Linked DNA regions of Homo sapiens. The protein of the gene in region 1 purifies or fractionates together with the protein of each later gene. This does not show direct contact. Each region holds a gene or a part of one and is shown in the gene's direction. Other genes may lie near its edges.

The links.
Region 2: the proteins of RRM2B (region 1) and OPALIN purify together in Homo sapiens (co-immunoprecipitation; one large-scale study listed by IntAct). This does not show direct contact.

Annotation. Positions count from the first base shown.
Region 1 is NC_000008.11:102,203,719-102,208,004, reverse strand, and holds the end of RRM2B (ribonucleoside-diphosphate reductase subunit M2 B), read left to right. Parts: 3' UTR 1-3,503; downstream 3,504-4,286.
Region 2 is NC_000010.11:96,342,659-96,346,125, reverse strand, and holds the end of OPALIN (opalin), read left to right. Parts: intron 1-8; coding exon 9-185; 3' UTR 186-2,905; downstream 2,906-3,467. UniProt on the Homo sapiens protein: Central nervous system-specific myelin protein that increase myelin genes expression during oligodendrocyte differentiation. Promotes oligodendrocyte terminal differentiation.

The DNA of each region.
Region 1 (4,286 bases):
CTATTCTAAACAATTTGCATTTATATAATTTTCCTGTTTAACAACAAGAGTGTGACCTAAATGCTTTTGTCTTGTCACTGAAATAAAAGATGGCATTATGTGGTTAAGAGCATGGGGCGAGGGGTCAGACATGAGTCTAAGGTTCTGCCCTTACTCCAGTGTGTGACCCTTGGCAAGTCAGTTAATCTTGGTAAACCTCGGTGTACTTATCTTTAAAATGGGAGTAATAGTAGGTCCTAAATTCATAGAGTGGATATTAGGATTAGGATGCAAAAATAAATGCTTAACCAACACTACTACTGTTAGCACCACTACTAATTATCATTCATTGATAATATTAATTGCAATGATGTTGTAATAAAATACTCTCATTTCCTTAAAATAATTGTGATTCTAGGTCCTAGGATCTAGAATTAGATCTTTGTATTTTTAATGCTTAGGGGAAGAATATAAGTATCTCCTTAAAAAGAACATAATTCTCATTCACGCAAGAATAAGTTCTTTGAATTCCTTAGTATGTAGTGAAGAAAATTTAGTTGTTAGTTGCTTTGGGAAGCCTACTTATGGAGTGGAAACCAGGAGGTTATCATGGTAGTTGACCTTATAAGAAAAATGATTCTTCTTCAGAAATTAAAAACATAACTATTGCCAGATTTAGCTCTGGAATGTTTAGAATCAGGCTAGAATAGCATTTTCCAAAGAATATTCTAAGAGCTATTAGCTCCTCTAGATATTTTTTTGGGGGAAAAAGGGGATTCTGTGGTCAGATGAGTTTGGGAAATGCTGAACACTTCATTCTTCTTTAGCAAGTACAGTCAGTACATCAAAGACTGAGCAGTTCAGTGGTACATAAATTTATCTCGCCCTGCATATTCCCAACATACTTAACACAGATGTTTTTTACCTGTTAACATCTCACCCAGCTAGTGTTCCTCAGAACAAAGATTGGAAAAAGCTGGCCGAGAACCATTTATACATAGAGGAAGGGCTTATGGACTGAGAAAGGGAGAACATGGTAGGGATTATTGAATCATTTCAAATTTATACCAGCCTGAATAGTGTACCAGCAATTGACTTAGGCTGTGTTTCTTTATGGTTTTAAAACTCTTGAGCTGTTATAAGAGATAGTTCTTTTAATGTGACTATGCAACATGATAGCCAATGGTGAGGGAAAAGGAGGTTTCTCTAGAAGAGTCTGATGAAAGGCCGGGAACCAAGGTTTTTGAGAAGTCTGCCCCTATTTATTTTTAGTAAGTATCAAGAGGTAGCCTGAGCCTAGTTAGAGTTAGACCTGTCTTTGGATGAAGAAGTCTTAATACTGAAATACTGAATTTTTAATACATTATTATTTGGTATTCTGTATACCCCTTCAAGCAGTTGTTTCCCATTCCCAACAAACTGTACTTTATACAATTCTGGATGCTAAAACTTAGAGATTTTCTCTTTGCATAAATTTTGGCTCCATTCTTTCCATAACAATCTAATCAAAACTGGGAGTTCTCAAGTGAATGCAAAAGGAGCAGGCCATAACTTTATTTGTTAGATACACTGTCAGAAACTTGAGATCTTTTGGCCTATGATAATACCATTAATTTTTGCATTGCTTCAGTTTGCCAAGTGTTTTTACATCATCTCATTTGATCTCAAAACAGCTTGACAGAGCAACTGTTATTGAAATATTACAGATGGAAAGAATGAGGCTCAGGGAAGTTAAATGACTTGGCCAAGATCTGCTCATCGTCACTGTCTGTACAGTATTTTTTTTTAGAGGTTGTAATGTCTCAGATTTAGTCCTTTACCATCTATGTTGATTTGCTTTTGTCTATTTCCTCATTAATTGAATATACTTTAAATATATATATTAAAGTATCAAAATATAGAGAGACATTTGAACTGTATTCAGGTAATATGTTTAAAGATATTTATATATTGCCATACAAAAACTTAACATTTAAAACTGATAATATCTGTAATGACATCAGAATGAAAGAAAAAAAATTGTACAGTGTATATTCCTTTGTTTTGAATCCAAATCTTTTTCATAGGTAATGACAGATGCCTTAATGTGAAGCTTATTTATAATAGCAATAAACCTAACTGGATTTGGATGAAGAAGTCTTAATACTGACATACTGGATTTTTAATGCACTGGTTTGTTATTTGGTATTCTATCTCTTTTTCCAGGCCTCCAGGTTGCACATTTATTTATTATGTTCAATACTTTGGTTCTTAGTTCTTAAAGAATCAAGAAGTTGTGTAATCTTTTAAAAATATTATCTTGCAGATAAAGAAAAAAATTAAGAGTGTGTTTACAACTGTTTTCTCTTTTTTACAGTACATGTATTTAAATCATTGCTATAATAAAGTTAAGTTCATTAGGAATATAAAAACTTGCAGTTCTATGATAGATTGCATTTATTAAAAATGTTTCATTGTATCACATAGAAATATGGCCAGGAAGGACTTGAGAAGACAGTTTGATCCATTGCTTTTAGACAGGACTGGGTTTTGCTGTCCAATTATATACAATAATAGTTTTTCTTACAACTAAGCTGGCCCCAGCCTTGTCTTGATATTAATACATGAAATTTTTATAATTGTCTCATTGTCTCATTTAGAAACATCCATATTTTTCTGCTTTTTCTATTGCCATTTTTTATTTGTGCATGAATTGATTATTGAGAAAATGTAGCAGTTTGCATATTTAAAAATTAATCATTTTGCATTTTACATTTAAATATGCTAACATCACTGTCATAGAATTCCCAAATTTCATTTGTAGATACTGAACTAAGGGCTAATGTCAGGAGCTGATTTTTAATGATAAAGCTGCAGATGGGCTAAATAAAAGCCAAATTAATCCTACAATCAGGTATTATGTTTTTAAACCAAGTTGAGTGAATTGGTAGTGGACTTGGGAAATCTTCCCCAGCAGAATCTGGATGAATGGCACAGAATTGAAATCTCTTTGTTTCCCACCATTTCCCTTTAAGTGCTCTGCTCCTTTGTAAAAAGTTAAAGATTTGAAAGAGAATCTCATATTCCCGAGGCATTAGGAAGAAAGGATTTAATCCCTTCAATTTGGGGCTTAATCTTGTTTAAAAAAATGTAAGTGAAGATGGAAGGCTGGAGAGAATGATTGCTTTTTGTACAGTTAAATAAGGTCACAATATTCTTACATACTTTGTTTTACAACTGTGTTTTCATTTTTTCAAATGTCTGGCCATTTAGCAAAGTTATTTACTATTTACTGTGTACATAGAAAGCTTTATTATGTGTGGTGTATCTAAATTTTTTTTGCTGAAATACATTATGGTCAATCAAGCCAAGCCTGCATGTACAGAATTTGTTTTTTTTTCAAATAAATTAGTTGTTTTCTTATTTTTTTGGCTTAGTATGTTGAAATAAACTATGGTATCTTCATCATTTTGTACATTTCCTTTTTGAGGAAGGTTTCTTTATAAGTGCAAGGGCTACCCTAATAAAGGAATGTATATACTTACTATTTGTGTCTGCAGATAAATACATACTTGTTTGTTCAACTATCGCCCCAACCATAGTTTTTACATTAAATGAGACTCCCAGTTCTCTCACCTATCTTTCTCCCAATCCATAAGCCTCTCTTCATGTCTTTGTTTCCAGCTGAGATTCCACAAACATCATATTACTAGCAGTAGCACTCATACCAGTACCCTCAACTCTGTCCCTTATCTGCTTTTTACCATACATAGAAAAATTTAGAAAAATCCCCAAGTCTGTTTTGAATGAAACAACTTAGTTTTTCCAGTATTTGCACCCCAGCAGCCAAATGCTGCTAGAGAAGAAGTCATACAACAAGGCAATTGGATTCTCTACGTATTCATGATTACCCTATCTCAGCACTATCTGGTAATCCTACTACAATTTCCTGGTAAACTTGACCTCCACTGTGCACAATTGCTTTTTCACACCTCCTCTCTCTACCTCTACCCCCGTTTCCCAAAGAGGTGACCATATATTTTACTCTGTGGACTTTGCACACATAGAGATATTCTCAGAGTTAGTAGAAAAATTTGACGATATAAGAGCCCCAAATCTAGAACCTAAGAAGTTAACAGTAGATATGAATTCCTATGTGTGATTTCTGCTGTGGAGTCATTACAATCGGAGTGATTGAAAATATCTGGGACTAACAGCCATTTAATTCTGGGGACTGCTGCTCTCATTCCCAACCATGCGGTTCTCCCAGGGCTGCCAATACGCTAGTATGCACTGAATGTGTCTGGGCGCAGGCTTAAGCATGTGAT
Region 2 (3,467 bases), on another chromosome or scaffold:
TCCTTAAGAATCCTAGGAGATCACCCACACATGAGAAGAATACGATGGGAGCACAAGAGGCCCACATATATGTGAAGACTGTAGCAGGAAGCGAGGAACCTGTGCATGACCGTTACCGTCCTACTATAGAAATGGAAAGAAGGAGGGGATTGTGGTGGCTTGTGCCCAGACTGAGCCTGGAATGATGCAGCTCAGTCAAGGAGCAGCAGACCTGGCACTGGAACAGGGTTGAAAACCCAGGGTTTTGTACTTGGAGAGGAAAGATGCCAAGCTGCTTCTTAATCAATCCAAATTTCATTTACAGCTCTGGAACACTTTGGGGCTGATTTGTCTCTTTAGGGGACATCCCCAACATGGTTAATTCCAACTCTCAGATCTTGTGCTTTAGTTAGTACATGTGACTCACCAGATGGGGTCCTTAGATCCTATTCCTGCTCCCAGTGGGAATTTGCTTTTCTTTGTCATTTTGGGAAAGGGGCTTGGTTTCTGAGTGTCTTGCCTTCTCATCTTTTTTTTTCATATCCTTTTTCTCAAAAAAGCCATCAGATCTGACTTTCATGGAAGTGTTGCTGAGGTCAGCCTGGTGCAAGTTGGGATACAAATGAAACTTATGCAGGATGTGTGAGAGGAAGCAGTTAATTGTTTCTGAATATCTCAGGGTAGGAACCATGTGGAGCCACACATTCCCTGACCACAGGGAAGCACCTGGCTCAATCATGTCACACAGCAGTGGAAAGAATACGGACTCTTAAGTCACACCTACCACTGAGCAGCTGTACGACTTTGGAGAAGTTGTTTAACATTTTCAAGCCTCAGTTTTTGCTTTTTTAAAGGAGGGGAAATATTTGCCTCATGTCATAATTGAAAAGATTAAATAAGAAATAAAGGGAAGTGTCTGCTACTTAGTTGCCAGTCAAAATGTTAGTTCTCTCTCTCTACCACCTTCTTCCTACCTCTTCCCATATTGCTTGCCTGATAAAACAGCTAATCACCAGCATTTGTTCCCCATAGTCACAGGGCCACACAAGGGAACATTTAGGACAAACTTTCTCCATGGCCTATGATCCAAATTGTTATCTAAAGATGATTCTAGGTGTTGCTGGTAGTATGTGAATCTTCCAATCTAGGTGTGATCGTGTCCTCATATGAATCAGGAAAAGGCAGTTTCTTACAAGTTCCGAATTCCAAATACAGAGACTGGTGGTGTTACATTTAACCTTAAAGATGTTAATGTTGATGGAAATTCATGTTTCATATTAAAACAACACTTTGTCTTTACAATGAAACATTTTGCTTAATTTTTAAAGTAAGACATTATGATACCTCTGATGGCAGTTCCTCAAATAACTTTAACTTTTGTGCTTTAGGGATAGTTGTTAAAGTTACAACTTCTTTTATTTTATTTTTTAAAGGCTTCAGATTAAACAAGAGCCCTTAAGCCCACGCATAGCATTGCCGCTTCAGCTTGCTGAGGACTGTCTCCAAGGAGGCCAAATGGAAAAGGAGAGGCTACTTCAAGTGGTGTTGGCCCATTGAGCCTATTGGGCAAACTATAACCAGGTTGCCTTATTTTGGGTGGATTACTCCAGGAGAGGCCACCCTCCAGCTTTCTCTTATCCCAGTAACTCCTCTTCCCATTTTCCAATCCATCCCCAGCCTTTTTTTTTTTTCTTCTGTACTCTTCTTTTGCCTTCAATATGAGTTTCATTTCCTCTGTGTCTTTGGGCAGACTTCCTTCTAACATGTGTCAGCTACCCTACCACACACCTGGCCTAGGAGACACATCATTCATTGCTCCTACTTGTGTCTGTAATCAGAGAGTATTTAAGGAGGGCAGTTCTGCGACGGACTGTGTGTGTGTTGAAAGTAAAGATGGGGGGCCGCGGGGAAGGCAAGAGTTTTTCCAAAAGATTATTAGAAATGAGGGCTGTATCTACTCTGTGGAGTAGAACCAAGTCTACTTGGAGAAAAGAACCAAGTCCTTGGATATCTAGGGGAAAGCTGTTTGGCAGAAAGAAAAATCAAGAGGACCCAAGGGGATGGAGACAGGACCACAGGAATGGGCCAAGGAGCAACGTGCCTGCCATTCAGCCAGCTTGGGACAGGCTTTCACTTTCACTCCCATGAGGAGGCTTCCAGGCAGCCTGGTTCCCCCATGTATAGCCATTGCCCTCTAGCAGGCCAGGCCTCCCAGTGGGAAGGCCTGGGTCCAGGGCATCTTAAGTTCATCCAGCAGCTCCATGAGCCACACAGATATCCTAGAAAATATTCCTTTCTCACACAGGGCTTCTGATTACTCAGAAACATGCCCCTCTTCCCTGAATAACCAAGAACATGTTCTATGAACCCAATCTCTGCCACATGTCAATACCTGCTCTTCAAAGCCCCTTTTGAAACTCAGTTTTGTGCCAAGTCCTCTGGATCTAATTACCTTAAACAAGCAGATTTAGCCATTTTTAAACAGACATTCCCAGTCATCCTGGTGCTTGTACTTCTCCTACATGTCATGAAGGACCTTGGATTTACTGAGAACTCAGCCGTGGCCTTGGCTTTGATACTTATAGGTGTCAGCCCTTGGGCCGATTGTTGATCATCCAGAGCCTCAGTTCTGTACTTGTAAAGTGGAGACAGCAGTTCTCATCCTCCATCCTTTTAGCCCATGGGGTGGTTGTAAGGCTGGATTGAAATATGCATGTGACTAAGCCATGTAGCTATAAAGTGAGGGATGACTTGTGTTTTGGATCACTTATTTTAATTCTACTTATAATCCACGGCTTAGAATATTTAAACATTGTTTCTATTAAACTAGAAAGGTTCAGCATTTCTGTCATTTACTTCTGCTATGATACACAAGAACTTATGTTGGAATGAAGTGAAAAGTAAAATGGCCATTCTTATGAACCTACAAAATGTTTGTGGCTTTTCTTTGCCTATATTAGAGAACATTGGCTCTGTCCCTGGAACCAAGATTATCCCAGGGATATTCCCGATATTGGCACTTTCTCTGCCAGGCTAGAAGACATTCAGTCTTTCATGGAGGGCAGCTCTGTGTGGTAAGCAAAATGATGAGACCCAAAGTCAGAAGCTCTGCTTCCCTAACCCAGGGCTGCTGGTAAGTTAAGTGACCTTAGTCAGGTTGCACGATGTGTGTGGGTCTCATTTCCTCCTGTATCATCTGGTGTTTGAATTGGTTTATCTATAAAGTTACATCCATCCAGTCCAAACATTCTACTTTGATTTTCCCCAAACCCTGCAAAGCACTCCTTCTGCCTGCCTGTTCCTCACTCCCATCAGCACAGCCTTCTATACCCTCTATGATTCTTCTCAGTTCCTGACTTTGCTGGTGGAGACAGATACTCACTTCTTCTTTATTTTGCCAAGAAATAACAATTATTAGTTTTGCTTAAGGCGTTTTTCCCTGCAACATTGCGATGTTAATTGAAGACCAAAAAGTGATAACTAATTTT